Linked DNA regions of Homo sapiens: region 1 is linked to region 2. The links come from fine-mapping of genetic effects on gene expression. Tissue or cell type: subcutaneous fat. Region 2 holds a variant in brackets; the other region holds the start of a gene. All regions are shown on one strand. Distances are between the middles of the regions.

Evidence for each region. PIP is the estimated chance that this variant, and not a neighbour inherited with it, causes the effect.
Region 1: CYC1 starts here. The variant in region 2 is fine-mapped to the expression of CYC1 in subcutaneous fat (FUSION, PIP 0.95).

What each region holds. Positions count from the first base shown.
Region 1 is chr8:144,091,198-144,099,197 of GRCh38, forward strand. CYC1 (cytochrome c1) reads left to right here and starts at 3,879. Exons shown (of 7, transcript NM_001916.5): 1 at 3,879-4,031; 2 at 4,636-4,832; 3 at 4,927-5,053; 4 at 5,140-5,297; 5 at 5,387-5,547; 6 at 5,837-5,937; 7 at 6,035-6,328. The coding sequence starts at 3,903. The coding sequence ends at 6,139. It overlaps SHARPIN (SHANK associated RH domain interactor), which reads right to left. Exons shown (of 9, transcript NM_030974.4): 7 at 7,884-8,000; 8 at 7,669-7,797; 9 at 7,440-7,591. The coding sequence ends at 7,681. RefSeq lists enhancers at 2,289-2,583, 5,048-5,097 and silencers at 3,718-4,007, 3,953-4,148.
Region 2 is chr8:143,910,088-143,918,316 of GRCh38, forward strand. It overlaps PLEC (plectin), which reads right to left. Exons shown (of 32, transcript NM_201384.3): 32 at 5,066-8,229. The coding sequence ends at 6,090. Among named protein-coding and RNA genes, the nearest start is that of PLEC, 25 kb to the right of the region's middle. RefSeq lists a silencer at 6,025-6,220. The variant A/T (reference allele first, on the strand shown) is at 3,679.

The DNA.
Region 1 (8,000 bases), 180 kb after region 2:
TTTTTTTTTTCTGAGAAGGAGTTTTGCTCTTGTTGTCCAGGCTGGAGTGCAATGGTCCAATCTTGGCTTACTGCAACCTCCACCTCCCGGGTTCAAGCGAGTCTCCTCCCTCAGCCTCCGGAGTAGCTGGGATTACAGGTGCATGCCACCAGGCCCGGCTAATTTTTTTTGTATTTTTAGTAGAGACACGGTTTTGCCATATTGGCCAGTCTGGTCTCGAACTCCTGACCTCAGGTGATCTGCCTGGCTCAGGCTCCCGAAGTGCTAAGATTACAGGAGTGAGCCACCGCGCCCGGCCAAGAATTATTTTTATGTGATGAGTCACTTCTCTCTTGCTGCTTTCAAGATTCTTTGTCTTTCAACAATTTGTTATGTGTCTCCTTTAGTTTATTCTACTTAGTGTTTGTTTAACAAAAAAACTAGATGTGCAGATTCATGTTTTTCATGAAACATGGCATGTTTTTGGCCTTTTTTTTTTTTTTTTTGAGACAGAGTTTCACTCTTGTTGCCCAGGCTGGAGTGCAATGGTGCAATCTTGGCTCGCTGCAACCTCCACCTCCAGGTTCAAGCAATTCTCCTGCCTCAGCCTCCCAAGTATCTGGGATTACAGGTATGCACCACCATGCCTGGCTAATTTTGTATTTTTAGTAGAGACAGGGTTTCTCCATGTTGGTCAGGCTGGTTTCGAACTCTCGACCTCAGGTGATCTGCCCACTTCGGCCTCCCAAAGTGCTGGGATTACAGGCATGCGCCATGACACCTGGCTAATTTTGTATTTTTAGTAGAGTCGAGGTTTCTTCATGTTGGTCAGACTGGTTTTGAACTCTCAACCTCAGGTGATCTGCCTGCCTCGGCCTCCCAAAGTGCTGGGATTACAGGTGTGAGCTACTATGCCCAGCCTTGGCCATTTTTTTTTTTTAAGTATTCTTACTCCTTTCTCTGTCTAGTCTACTCCTGGGACTGAAATTATGCATATGTTGGTATGCTTAATAGTGTCCCACAGGTCTCTGAGGCCCAGTTCATATTTCTTTCTTTTTTTAAATTTCTCTTCCTCAGACTTCCCTTTGTGTAGAGCCTCAAGGTCAGCCAGAGGTGAGAGTTTAGGGCTTTTTCAGGTCTCTCCTGAGTATATATCCATAGTCCTCCGTGTGTATATGACCTGTATTCCCAAAAATGTTTTGGGCTTTTCAAAGCGCCTGTGGACATCTCATTCCCTTGCTCTTCCTTTTTAGCTTTTTGTTTAGTCTATTGTTTGTGGCAACTGTTATCCATCACCTCAGGCAGCTGGCACTGGGCAAGCCCTGAGCCAATGTGGTAGGAGTCTTCTAGGCAGCCATCAGACACGTTCAATAACGGAGGTTCTGTGCGAATGAGGGCATTTTGCTCCCACAGTAACTAGGAATGTAGGTTCTTATTTCCAAGATTACCACTGAGCTGGAGGGCAGGGTTGAACCAGGGAAAGCTACAACCCACAAAGGCCACTGTTCTTACTGATAGTCACCTGTTTAATTGAATAACACCCCCTGGGATGACGACAGCCTTTGATTAATTTCCATAGCTTTGTAAAAGTTGATTCTGATCATTTTTGCTATGTTTTTCTTGCTCTTATTGGGTGAGGGGTGGGCACATTTTTTAGGGGTCTTTCTCCATTTTCACTGACAACTAATTTTGGATTTTTATTTTATTTTTTATTTTATTTTTTCTTGAGATAGAGTTTCGTTCTTGTTGCCAGGCTGGAGTGCAGTGGCGTGATCTCTGCTCACTGCAAACTCCGCCTCCTGGGTTCAAGCGCTTCTCCTGCCTCAGCCTCTGGAGTAGCTGGGATTACAAGCATGCGCCACCACACCTGGCTAATTTTGTATTTTTAGTAGAGATGGTGTGTAGAAAGTAAAAAGTTTCCTCTTCAAAGTTTCCCTTCTTGTTAAAGAATAAATCGTAAGTGTTAGAAATAATAGTTTCTTTTACAGACTAACTTCCTTCAAGCCTCCTTGTTTTGTGCTAATAATTCTTTTCTTTTCTTTTTTTATTATACTTTAAGTTCTAGGGTACATGTGCATAATGTGCAGGTTTGTTACAGATGTATACATGTGCCATGGTGTGCTGCACCCATTAACTCGTCATTTACATTAGGTATATCTCCTAATGCTATCCCTCCCCTCTCCCCCACCCCACAACAGGCCCCGGTGTGTGATGTTCCCCTTCCCGTGTCCAAGTGTTCTCATTGTTCAATTCCCACCTATGAGTGAGAACATGTGGTGTTTGGTTTTGCTAATAATTCTTTAAGCTCTATCTTATGTAGCTGTTAAACATGCTCACAGGCAGGTAGTACATTCTATGTCCTTGTACCTTAACCAAAATATTTGTGCTGGACGTGCTCACAGGCACGTTCCAGCTCACAGCCTGTGCCCCTTCCCTATTTGGCATAAGCAACTTCCTCTTTTCCTCTGTTCTCCCTTGCCTTTATCTATTTAGAAAAGTTTTAAATTATTAGCCAGTCGACTTTTAGTTTAGATTGTGCCATCTGGCTCTAGCCAATGGAGACAGGACACAGTAGCAGGGACAAGCTGTGTAAGGGATAAAAATAGCTTCTCTCCTTTATTCAGGTGTGCTCTCACCATTTTTCCATCTGTGAGGAGCACCCTCTCTGCAGAAAGTAAAATTGACTTGCTGAGAGAACTTTTTGTCGGAATGCTGATCTTTCCTTATGGTACCAGGGAACAAGCGTTCTGTTTCTAAATAAACATTTTACATATAACACAGGGTTTCTCCATGTTGGTCAGGCTGGTCTCAAACTCACGACCTCAAGTGATCTGGGGCCTCCCAAAGTGCTGGGATTACAGGCGTGAGCCACCGCACCCAGCCTAGTTTTTAAATTTTATTTGCTTTTTTTTTTTTCTTGAGAGGGAGTCTTCCGTCTGTCATCCAGGCTGGAGTGCAGTGGCACGATCTCTACTCACTGCAACCTCCGCCTCCCGGGTTCAAGCGATTCTCCTGCCTCAGCCTCCCAGAGTAGCTGGGACTACAGGCGCGCGCCACCACGCCTGGCTAATTTTTGTATTTTCAGTAGAGACAAGGTTTCACCATGCTGACCAGGATGGTCTCCATCTTTTGACCTCGTGATCTGCCCGCCCCACCCTCCCAAAGTGCTGGGATTACAGCGTGAGCCACCGCGCCCGGCCTTTGCTTACTTTTTAAATATTTTACAATAAAAATATTCTCACATAACAAGATCATATTTACTTACTTTTTTGAGACGAGGTCTCGCTCGATATCGCCCAGGCTGGAGTGCAGTGGCGATCTCGGCTCACCGCAGTCTCCACCTCCGGGGCTCAAGCGATCCTCCCGCCTCAGCTTCCCAAAGCGCTAGGACCCAAGGCGCGCATCACGCGTCGGGCCATGAGTCAAGGGAATGAAGGAGAACAGGGTGCTCAGCCTGGGGGCCCAGCCTCCCGCTGTCACGCGCTGCCTGCGGCCGAGACCCCTGCCCGCGCCCTCTGCCGGGCTGCCCTCCAAGCCGCCCTTTCTCTGGAGGTCCTCAGCCTGCAGGGGCACCCTCCACCCGGCCATCGCGCAGCCTGGGAAGGTGGAGAAAAGGAGCGTCGGGGTCTCGGAGGCGGCGTGGGAAACGCCGGGCGGAGCGTGGCGCTGTCACGGCAACAGAGAGACGCGACGGGGCCCCGCCCCACCGCCAGTTTCCACGACAACCCGAAGAGCGTGGGGAGGCAGGCGGTGCCCCGGCCCCTGACTGACGCGACCGGGACCAGCGCGCTTCGTCCCCGCCCACCCGACAGGCCCCGCCCCCGAGCCCGGCCCCGCCCCGCGCTCCCCGGCTTTCGCGAGGTTTTGACTCTCGTGGCGCCCCAGGGGCCGACGGGAGTGGCGGCCGCGCGGAGGAGGCCAAGATGGCGGCAGCTGCGGCTTCGCTTCGCGGGGTAGTGTTGGGCCCGCGGGGCGCGGGGCTCCCGGGCGCGCGTGCCCGGGGTCTGCTGTGCAGCGCGCGTCCCGGGCAGCTCCCGCTACGGACACCTCAGGTGAGCGCTGGGCCGGGCCCCGGCCTCCGCGCGGCCCCGCATCTCCGTGAAGGTCACGGCGGGGAGGCTGCGGGCGCGGGCCTGGGCAGCGCGGAAGCGGTACCGGCCACCCAGCGTCCCCGGTCCCAGCTGCCTGCCGACCTTGAGCGTGTGGGATCAGGGCTGGGCGCCCACCTCTCCGAACGGCAGAGAGCCCGTCCCCAGCGTGGGGGTTGGCGGGACGGGCTAGCTGCCGTGGCGGGGCTGGGGCTTTCCCGAATGGCGCGCCCAGGACGGCTCTTGCGGCTGGCTGTCCAAACTGGGCCCGCGTCCTGAAGTGACCCCAGCCTGATCTCGGCCAGCTGCTTGTGACCTTGGCCTGTCCCAGCACCCTTGGTCACTTCGGTCTGATCCCCGGCTCAGGATCCAGGAACACCCTCTCCTGAGAGCGAATCACGGTCTAGGGGTCAGCGGCGGAGAGGGATGGGGTGGGTAGTGGGACAGGGTGTGCGTCTGGTGCCCTGCAGGAGGAGGCCATTGCTGGGTGGAGAGGTGGGCGCTGAGAGTCAGATCCCCAGGTAGGGCTGGGTGGTGTCCTGGCAGGCGCTGAGCGGAGATCTTGCAGGCAGTGGCCTTGTCGTCGAAGTCTGGCCTTTCCCGAGGCCGGAAAGTGATGCTGTCAGCGCTGGGCATGCTGGCGGCAGGGGGTGCGGGGCTGGCCATGGCTCTGCATTCGGCTGTGAGTGCCAGTGACCTGGAGCTGCACCCCCCCAGCTATCCGTGGTCTCACCGTGGCCTCCTCTCTTCCTTGGACCACACCAGGTGTGCAGCTGGCTGGCTGGCTGGCAGCGGGAGGTTCTGGGTGGAGCTGGTAAGGTGGAATCTTCAGCTTTCCTAACCCTTTCCCTCCCTCCAGCATCCGGAGGGGTTTCCAGGTATATAAGCAGGTGTGCGCCTCCTGCCACAGCATGGACTTCGTGGCCTACCGCCACCTGGTGGGCGTGTGCTACACGGAGGATGAAGCTAAGGAGCTGGCTGCGGAGGTGTGGGGTCTGGGGATGCCTGGGACCCAGGGCTCAGGGCTCCCACTGTTGAGATGGCAGGGTTGTGATGAGGCTCTCGGTGGCAGGTGGAGGTTCAAGACGGCCCCAATGAAGATGGGGAGATGTTCATGCGGCCAGGGAAGCTGTTCGACTATTTCCCAAAACCATACCCCAACAGTGAGGCTGCTCGAGCTGCCAACAACGGAGCATTGCCCCCTGACCTCAGCTACATCGTGCGAGCTAGGTACACGGGCTGCCCATGGGGTGGTGCTGGAGAGATGGGGGAAGGGCTGACTTGTGCTTGGAACTAAGGAGCCATGGATCTGGTCCTAGGCATGGTGGTGAGGACTACGTCTTCTCCCTGCTCACGGGCTACTGCGAGCCACCCACCGGGGTGTCACTGCGGGAAGGTCTCTACTTCAACCCCTACTTTCCTGGCCAGGCCATTGCCATGGCCCCTCCCATCTACACAGATGTCTTAGAGTTTGACGATGGTAAGAGGCCTCCAGTCTGGCAGTGGGCATGTGGAATACTTCTCCACTACCCCCAGGGATGCTTTCCCTGTGTTCCTGGGTCCAGGAGGTCCTGCCCACTTCTTGTCTGGGGCGTCTTCTGTGCATGTCTCAGGAGGCTTTTGGGCTCCTTCAGTTTTGCGTATGTCCGGTGGAGGGTACTGCCCCTTTGATGCCTTGGGTAGGGGCAGTGTCTGCTTCACAGAGGGGGGGCATGATCCCAGGTTGGACATGAGCCTGAGAATAGCCCTCACTGCTTGTCGTTGGCCAGGCACCCCAGCTACCATGTCCCAGATAGCCAAGGATGTGTGCACCTTCCTGCGCTGGGCATCTGAGCCAGAGCACGACCATCGAAAACGCATGGGGCTCAAGGTAAAAGGGTTGGGAGGCCATGGTGGGTATCAGAGAAGGGCTGGGAGCTGGGCAGGGCTCCTCCCCACTCCCTTCTCTGAGCCTTCCTTGTCTGCAGATGTTGATGATGATGGCTCTGCTGGTGCCCCTGGTCTACACCATAAAGCGGCACAAGTGGTCAGTCCTGAAGAGTCGGAAGCTGGCATATCGGCCGCCCAAGTGACCCTGTCCAGTGTCTGCTTGCCATCCTGCCAGAACAGGCCCTCAAGCCCAAGAGCCATCCCAGGCCTGTTCAGGCCTCAGCTAAGCCTCTCTTCATCTGGAAGAAGAGGCAAGGGGGCAGGAGACCAGGCTCTAGCTCTGGGCCCTCCTTCAGCCCCCATCATGGGAATAAATTAATTTTCTCAATGTACATATTTGAGTTATTATATGGAAAGAGTGCACGTTTGCAAGGAACTCTGATACCAAGACCCTTGCCTTCACAAGGCTCCCAGGATGTCCCATGCAGTGTGGCCAGCAATGCCCTGCACTGACTGGTAGCTGGGAGTCCAGACAGTGGGTGTGGGACAGAAAGCGGAGAACTGCATGTTAGAGGAAGTCAGCATTTGGTGGGGTGGGGTGTGTCTGAGCACAGAGCTGAAAAGGGCCTAGCCAGGCAGGATGTGGCCCAGGGACCTGTTGGAATGAACAGCCAAGTGTTAAGGTGTTGAACCACTTGGCCCCCATTCTGATGGCAGCAGGGAACCTTGGCTGCATTTTAACAGGGGAAAGGCCTGGTCTAGGGCAGGGGCTATTTATTGCTGGGCTGGGCTGAGGAAGGGGATGGCTCCCAGCCAGGTGAAGGAGTCAAGTAGACAGACAGGATGTGTGTCATGGAGTGGCCCCTCCTAGCAGTCCACAGGGTAGCTAGGTGGTGGGTCCTGGCCAGAAGCTGGCAGTAGCTGGGTTCCCACAGGAGCATGCTGCTGAGGGAGGGAGACAGTGGATGCTATCTAGGAGGGTCACAGAGACATGACCCAGCACCGGCCCAGTGACCTGGTGCAGGACTCAGCTCCTGAGCTTCCCTCGTCCCTAGGAAGGGAAGGAAAACACCCATTTTCATTGCTGGTGTCCTAGCTGCAAGAGCTGAGGGGAGTGGTGGCCATAGTCCAAGGAAGGCAAGAGCTGAATGGGAGAAAGGTGGTACCAATAGGCCTGCAGGCAAGAGAGGTGCAGGCCTGGGGGACCAGGGTGGACAGTAGGAGACAAGGTCAGTGGTGGGGGCTGCAGCTCAGTATGTGGCACACCCCAGCAGCCTCAGCCCAGTGGTGAGCAGCTGGGTGGGGGGCTCTGTAGGCCTCTGGGGTCTGGGAAGAGATCCCCATGCCATGCTTTCCTGACCACTGAGGCTCAGGGTCCGGGCCCATTCTTCAGTAACACCGGGGTCTGGCTGGGGAGCCCCGCCTGCTGATGAGGGCCTGTCTCCCTGTATCGCTGGCTAGGATGGGGCAGGTCTGCAGAGACACCATGAAAGGGATGCTTGCTGGCTCTTAAGGGTCTTTAATGGTTTCATTTTGTGGCCCTTCCCCCCAACCCTGGTGACTGTCCCAGCAAGCAGTCAGTAGAGGTCCCCGGAGTTCAGTGGGGGCCTGGAGATGTCGGACTTGTGAGGGAAGGGCCACTCTCCCCTTGTAACCTGTGGGGGAGGAGCTGGGTCATTCCTGTGGATTCTGCCCTGCCCCCCACCTCCCCTGCCTGTGCCACCTCTGGTACCTCTGGTGGCTGCTAGGTGGAAGCTGCAGCAAGGGGGTCCCAAGTGCAGGGCCTCTGGGTGCTACACATCTCACAGCCAGGGCGGTCTGGGGCATTGATGAAGGTGCAGGAAGGACAGGACCAGCTGGGCTGGGGGAAGAGAGACAGTTGTTGCTTCCCTGCTCTTTCCAATGCCCATGGCTGTCCTGGCCCTCCCTGCCCAGTCCCGTGCCCACCTGGAGTGGACTGGGCAGGCTGGAGGCAGCTGGCTGGGGGCCTGGGGGTAGCCCCAATGATGGGGGAAACAAGCGTCCAAGTTCCCCGTCCATCTTCTGGGGGTGCTGAGGGCTAGG
Region 2 (8,229 bases):
CCCAGGCAGGATCCAGTGTTTCCCTTCTGTGGCTGGATCGTCGGAGAACCCGCTTTCTCGCTGGGTGCAGCCCTTTGAGGATCCGGATGCCACAGAGGCCTCTGGCTGTACGGCCCGCATCCCGGCCTCCTGTTCCTGAGGACCTTTAAAACCCGAGGCTTCAGCCTTCCAGGATCAGCAAATTCCTCGGGAAGCGTCAGCTCAGCCGCTGCACTGAGGACCCTCCTTTCTCTTTCACCCCTGGTGGTTTCCTTGTCTTTTTGGTAACGTCAGAATGCACCCGAGAAGCTATTTAAGTTTTACCCGGATTTACGTGGGAGGAGTTTTCAAGGGTCTCTCGGTCCGTCTGCGCTGCTACTGAGGAGCTGCCACCGTGAAGGCAGCTGCCGTGGCCGATCCTCCAAGATCCCCTTGGGTGTCCTTGTTCCCCTCCCCAGCTGCTGCAGACGCTCACCTGTGTCCTCCTCCAGAACACTGCCCTTGGCTGACAAGAGCTGCTCATTCAGAGATGCCTGAGGACCACGTGCCACCCCACAGGCAGCTCAGACCCACGTGTGGGCAGGAGTCAGAGCCTCTGAGCTGTGCCCTTGCCTCTCAGATGTCCGTGGGGCAGGGCTACGGCTCCAGCCCCCTTTGCCAGCTCCTTGCCCTCCCCACTTGTTGCACCCCTTTTCTGAGAATTCTCCAGAAACCATGTGTAACTGAGGCACCGCCCTGGGGAGCCTGCCTGGGATGGGGGGGCGCAGACGTGGTCCTGGCGCACAGATGCCACAGTTGGTCAGAACACCACCGACTGCCTGGCGATGCTGTCAGCCTGGCACCAATGGCAGTGCAGCCGCTGGAGCTCCCACCTGTTGAGACGTGCTGGCAGCGGGAGGGAAGGTGGGGGCAGCGGCCAGAAGACCCTGACCATGGGGGCCCATGAAGCTGGCTCATGGAGCGCCACAGTCTGACAGGAGACGCAGATGGGCAGCCTGCAAGGAGCTGCTCACTACACTGGTTCTCACACTCAGGCACATGGCAGCCCCTGGAGGGCTCCTTAAAGCACAGCTGGCTGAGCCCCAGGCCCAGGATTTCTGACTCAGTTGGTCTGTGCCGCGGCCAAGGCTCTGCCCCTTCCAAGCTCCCAGGTGGTCCCGGGGCACACTCGGAGGACACTGGCTCAGCACGCGGCACCCACAAATTTTAAAACGAGTGAGTGAGTCCAGGCCCACTGCTCTGATGGAAAACACAACCACTTGCTTTGTTTCCTTATGTCAGCCAGTTCTCAGAGCCAGAGCCCACAAATGGAAAGAGCGGCCAGGTCCCCTTGTGAAAGGCCTCACGCCTCCAAGTGTGGACAGCAGTGACCCCCCAGTCCCTCCAGGGACCCAAAGATGCTTATCTGGACAACTGTGCCCTGGGGAGAGGAAGACGCCCAGATCAGGGTCTGAGTGGACGCTGACACCTGGGGCGCAAAGCACCCTCAGAGGCTCCCATCTGGGTAGGGAATATGGGGTCAGGAAGGACCTGGAGTCCTGGCCCAGGCCTCAGCCCATCATTTCCCAGCCCAGGAACGTGCAATTGGAACTGGCATGCTCAACAGCAAATCCTCACATGGGCTTTTTGGCCCATGGAGTAAAAATCACTGTAGTAGGAAAGACCAAATGGAAACCTTAGAAACTACCCCCAGCTCCAGCCAAGGAAATAAAACAATACAACCTCCTGGTCAAAACGGCGGCGTCAGCAACACCGCAGATGCCTAAAGGGTGCATGGGTGATGGCCACCATCTTCCCACTTAATTTGCTGGTCAGGTCCCTACAAGAGCTGGGTAGACTGTGGTGGACGGCGGCTGAGCCACAGCGTCTCCCCACAGTGCCAACTCCAGCTGCTGTGCTGTCTGTGGTCTTTCCTGGAGCAGACTCACAGCCTCAGACGGTGTCCTGTGGCTCCTGGCTGGGCAGAGGGCTCTCCACTGCACCGGGAGGAGGTCAGGGGCAGTTCCCATTCACACGAGGTGGACAGCAGCGCACAGACATGCAGACACACAGACAACTGACCAAAGCGCAAACACGCAAGTCCGCTCACTGACAGCATCGCACCCACCAGGCCTGGCAAGCGGGAAGTGGCAGGCGTTCTGAGCGTCCTGCTAGGACACAGGCACTCCAGGGCAGGAGAGAGGCTGAGCCAAGATTCAGGGACTGGTCACGTCATGAAGGTTTTAGGAGTCCAGAGATCTGGGCATGTTAGGACGTCCTGTCCAAGGTCAAGAACGAGTTTTGAGCCTTGCATTTCCTAACACCAGGAAAGAAGCTGGCAGATGGCAGGCCTCTGGGTTCTGGACACAGCACGATGATGCCAGACACGGCACGATACCAGACACGGCAGGATGATGCCAGACCCAGCACGATGCCAGGCACGGCACGATACCAGACCCAGCACGATACCAGGCCCGGCACGATACCAGACACGGCAGGATGATGCCAGCCCCAGCACGATACCAGACCCGGCACGATACCACACACAGATCTTTTTATCAGTTGGCACAGAGGCTTCTCGTTTTGAGTGGGGCCCAGGAAAAGGAAGGGTAGCACAGCTGGTGAGGCTGTGGAACAAAGTCCTGCCACTCAGGCCCTGTGAGCTAACAGAGCTCTTGTACCAGGAGCACCTGCCGCAGGTGGGGAAGGATGCGTCAAGGGGTCTCCGGCAAGGCCCAAAAGAGCTGCAGCACCAGCCCTAAGTTTTGAAGCAAGGAGGTCCCGACTGCAACAGAGAACTGCGGACTGTTCAGAGAAGTTCCTGGGGATGGTGTGGCCACAGCTCCCACCAGGAGCCAGTGCCACAAGACCCACCCAGGCTAAGGTCAGCGGCACAGTGAGGATCCAGGGTAAGGGGCGGTGCACTGCCGGGCACCAGCCATGAGAGCCAGAGGGCTGCACGGGCAGGTGGCGCAGCTTCCAGCTTGCCCGCCAGTCAGGCCACAGCCTCAGAGGGTCCCTGTGACTGGGTGGGGGCCAAGCCCGGCCTGCTTCATGGCGGTTGGGTTCATGGTAGTCGGACCACTCCACTTGGGCTGGCCCTGGAGTCAGGGGTCGGGGCGATCCCTGGCCTCTCATGAGGAGAGGAGAGCAGCTCATGGTAAGGACACACGTGGACAGGGCTGGGGAAGGGCTCGGCTGGCCGGTCAGGGCCTGAGAAGGGCAACGCTGGAAGACGGACTGGGGAATGGAACTGCCGGGTGGACACCAGCGTGGGGACTTGTGGGTGTTCACCAGGGGCACCGGCTGCCGAGCGGGCACCCAGCCACCCACAAGCCAATGACGCGGCCAGTGACGCAGCGTCCGGTGCTCCCACACGGCTCCCGCCTGGAGCGATGGAGGACCAGACGAAGCCAGGCGCCCCATGACAAGCCCAGCTCCTGTCGGCAGCAGCACATCCCGTCCTCTGGCCATAAAGACCACCAGGGGCCCTGGACGCAAAACCAGCCAGAGACCAACCGGTCACTTGGAGGTAAACTCAGCCCTGGAGGCCCCTTCCCCTTGGAAAGACAACAGCTGGTATTCCAGGCACGGACCCACCTTTCCAGCCCACGATGCCTCCGTGTCTGCCCTGGGAGACGGGCTCCTGTGTAACGGCCCCCAGGGCCTCTGACTGCTTCCGGCAAGGGGGTGCAGAGGGAGCGGGAACACGGGCGCCGC[A/T]GAGCCTAGAGCGTCGGCGAGCTTCTCGGAAAGAGTTGGTGCCACCGTCCTGACACCAACCCTCTGGGACTGTGGTGGTCCCGTCCTCCAGGATGTGGTCTTCGGCCTAAATCAGTGGCCCCACAGAGGACCGCATGGGTCTGGGGACCAAGGGGTAGAGGCAGGAGTGGCCGCCCACTCACCAGCTCCCAGTGACCCACTGACAACCTGTGCTTCCTTTCCCTGCAACTCTTAAGCTGTGAGGGCTCAGAGGTCCTAAAACCCAGCCACCTGGGACAGAGTAAGGCACTGCCCCGCTCGATGGCTGTGGGTCACCCGGCCGGGGCCACTCCTGTTCCAGCGGACCAGCAGGCAGAGCACCCTCTACCGGGCCGGGGCAGGGAGGGTAAAGCCCAGCAAGAGCGAGAAGACTAGGACTTGGACCCCAGGGTGAACGCCTGGGTCCCACCAGCAGGAGAGGCGAAGGCCAGGCACAGTGGCTCACGCCTGTAATCCCAGAACTTTGGGAGGCCAAGGCAGGGAGGATCACTTGAGGCCAGGAGTTCGAGACCGGCCTGGCCAACACGGTGAAACCCCATCTCTACTAAAAATATGAAAATTAGCTGGGTGCACACCTGTAGTCCCAGCTACTCGGGAGGCTGAGGCAGTAGAATCATTTGAACATGGGAGGTGGAGACTGCAGTGAGCCGAGATCATGACACTGCACTCCAGCCTGGGTGACAAAGCAAGACTCTGCCTGAAAAAAAAAAAAAAAAAAAAAAGAGTATCGGCTGAGCCTGGACCAGTGGCTACTGCAGGCTGGGGTGGCCCCGCTTCCCTCCTCCCCTAAGTCTTCCCAGAAACTGCCACCAGTCGGAAGCCTGGAGAAGCCCATCCAGATGGAATCCCCGGAGTGTGATGGGCATGGGGCCGAGACATGGCAGACTGTGGTGGAGGCCCTCATACTAGGCCCACTGCCTGTGGCCCCTTCTCTGGAGGGCTGCCCGGCCAGCAGCAACCAACTGACCCGGGGCCATGTGGCACCCTCCCCGGAGGCCAAGGGGCCACAGCCAGTGACTGATATGGGAGCATACCACACCCCGCCTCAGATAAGGAAACGTGAGCCCCTTATAGTGCGAAGGGTGGGGCTGGGAGACTGGTCAGCACCTGACCAGCAGCAGGTCCCAGGGGGCCCGGCCTCAGTGTGGCCACCACCCTGCCCCACACTGAATCCCTCTGCCCAGGGTCTCTCAGCTGCCCTCCTGCGAGCACCTGGTCTCTGCTGCACACAGACGTACGTCCCTGACTGGCCATAGTGGCTGAGCTCAGAGCCTGGAGCCTGGGGCTGCAATGTCCACCCTGTCCCTGACACACACCTGACCCCAAGACACAAGGCCGGAGGCACGGGAAGGTTGGAATTGCTTTTATTGGGGGCGGATACCGCAAGGCCCCGCCCACGGTCAGGTTAGTGTTCTGCCCTTGCAGAGGCGCCAGCAGCCTGACACCTCCACCTGCCACCCGCCCGGGGTTAGTGGAACATGCAAAGCTCAGAGGGTGGAGGCAGGGGTGGTCGCTGCTGAGACCAGGGCTGGGTGCAACAGGAGGGTCAGCACAGAGCCTGGCTGGTGTCCCTGGGCCCAAAGGGGGCTGGGGCTCCATGGGAGAGAGACGGGCAGGCGGCACCCCAGTGTGGGGCTCCACAAGCTGGAGGGGCCCCTGGACCCACCAGGAGGACAGGTCTGCAGTTCCCAGCCATGCCGGCTGGAACGTCCGCCTCCCCACTGGGTCTGGGTCCTCGGGGCCTGGGGTTAGAGGCCGACATGGAAGGCACTTACTAGGGGAACAGAGGCTGGAGGCTGACGCCGGAGGCCAGGGGTCTCAGGAGTGAGTGTGGGGGGTGAGCTGGAAAGCACAGATCAGACAGCACTGTGGGGGCTGGGCCCGAGGGCCTCGTCTTCCCATGGGGAAGGGGCTTCTCTGGGTAGACTGGGAGAGAGGCTGACTGGGGCCCCCCGTCCCCAGCAAGGCCCACCGTGCAGGCCAGTGCTAGAAACACCAGGGCCCTCTACAGACAGGGTTGGGCCCAGCTGCCCTGTGCAGCTAGGACTGGCAGGCGGGCTACCCTGGGAAGACAGGAGGGTGGGCTGGGGCCCAGCTTGGGACCCTCCAAGGCACCTGGCTGTGTGAGTGGCAGGTAGAAGGGAGTGAGGAGACCCGAGGGGGTGAGGCGGCCAGCAGGGCTGGGCCAGCCCTGTCCCCCAAGATACAGGCTGTCTGGACAGCAGATATATATTAATATATTAGTCTGGTCTTTTTGGTTAAACTTTAGGCACCACTTGGGAGGAAGACACCTTTAAGCGTTGAAAACGGCCCCCGCGCCTCGGTGGGAGCCGGGCTGGGCCGCATGCAGAGCGGGGTGGGCGCAGGCAGCCTCAGGCCACGGCAGACTCAGGGCCCCCCAGGGAGGCCGAGGACCCCGAGGCGTAGCGGCGGCCGTAGCCCGAGGAGGAGTAGGAGGATGAAGAGAAGGTCATGGAGAAGCCGGAGCCGGTGGCGTCAAAGCTGCCGCGGCGGGAGCCGGCCCGGGAGCCGGTGCGCGAGCCGGTGCGGGAGCCAGCGGTAGAGCCGGAGCCGCTGACGCTGTAGGGGCTGTAGTAGCCCTTGGTGGACTGCGCGGCAGCCTCCAGCAGCCGCAGCCCCGTGCCCTCCTCCACCATGCTGCGGTCCAGCGCGTCCTTATAGGAGATCTTGAGCTTGGTCTTAGGGCAGGTGAGGTACTTGGAGTAGGCGCCCACGTCACGCAGCTTCTGTGCGGTGCGGGCGTCCACCGTGCCGCGCTGCAGGGCCTCGTCCAGGGGCACGCGGCCCGGCGTGTCGGGCTCGATCAAGCCGCCGGTCAGGTACTGCACCTCCAGGAAGCGCTGGCCGGCCTCGTAGTAGAGCCAGCCCTTCTTCAGGGCCTGGGCGGCCGACATCTTGGTCTTGGTGCGTGGGTCCTCGAAGCCGCAGAAGGCCTTCTGGGCCAGGTTGATGCGGTCCACCATGATCTTGTCCACCAGGCCCTTGTTGACGGCGTCGGTGACAGGGAAGCGCTCACCGGTGCTGGGGTCGATGATGCCCCCGGTGCAGGCCTGCGCCTCCAGCAGCCGCTGCCCCGTGATGTTATCCACCAGGTTCCGGTGCATGGCCTCGGTGATGGACACCTTCTCCAGCGTCTCCGTGTCCAGGATGCCAGCCACGGGGCCCGTCTCCTCAGTGGGGTCTGACCAGGAGGCCAGCTGGGTCCTGGAGACGGCGGGGCTGATGGGGTAGGAGGAGGAGGATCCCACCGAGGAGGAACGGGAGCGGAAACCACCGGCGTTGCCCGAGAGCATGTCGGCGAACTCGGTGATGGAGAGCGTGCCGGCGCGGTACTGGTCCAGTGCCGAGCGGTCGATGAGGTTCTTGGCGATGGCATCATCGATGTCGTACTGGCGCCCGGAGCGGCGGTCGATGATCATGGACTTGACCACGCCGTCCGAGGAGGAGATGGTGATCTCCTCCCACTCGCACTCCTGCTCGGACAGCTCCAGGTACGTCTGGTGGTCAATCAGGCCCTTGCGGTAGGCCTCGTACACTGACATCTCCTTGCCCGTCTCGGGGTCCACGATGACCACTCGGCGCTTGCGCACGGAGGACTTGGAGGACGTCTTCCGCTCCCGCTTCTTCTCCTTCAGCGGCAAGAGACACAGGCCCGTCTGGGGGTCAGTGATACAACGCTCCATCAGCTGCAGGTAGGTGAGGTTCTCCTCCGTGTTAGGGTCAAAGAAGCCCTTGGTGTCGTCCGAGGGGTCGGTCAGGATCTCGTTCATCTCCTCATCGAAGAGGCCGCGCTTGTAGGCCACCTCCACGGGCAGCCGGTGGCTCTCCTCAGGGTCGATGATGCCGCCCGTGGCGATCTGGGCCTCCAGCAGGCGGATGCCATGGTCCTTCAGGATCAGGCCCTTCTTCATGGCCTGGAAGAGGGAGATGAGCTTCCCAGAGTAGGGGTCCTTGTACCCAGTGACGGCGCGCTCGGCCGACAGCAGCTTGTCCTTGAACTCGGGGCCCACAATGCCCATACGCACAGCCTCCTCCACCGTCAGCTTCAGTCCCTTGATGGGGTCGATGACGTAACCGGTGGCCGCCTGCGCCTCCAGGAGCTCAAAGGCTGTGCCGGGGCGGATGATGCCCTTCTTCATGGCCTGGTACACCGAGAGCCGTTCCTTGGTGGCGTCCACGAAGACACCAGCGATGCAGCTGGTGCCTTCCAGGAACTTCTGCAAGTTCTTGGTGACCTCCTCGATGGAGGTCAGGCCCTCCCGCAGCTGCAGCGCCGTGGCCTCGTCCATGACCTGCGAGCGCACCAGCTCCTCCATGGTGATCTGCTTCCGCAGGCCACGGAAGGTCAGCTTGCGGGCGTCCGACAGTGGCAGGAGCAGCTGGCCGGTGCCGTCGTCACGACGGCACCGCCTGAGCAGCTGCGTGTAGCTGAGGCGCTCGTCGGTGGACGGGTCCACGTAGCTGCGCACCTCGCTGGGCTCTGACAGCTGG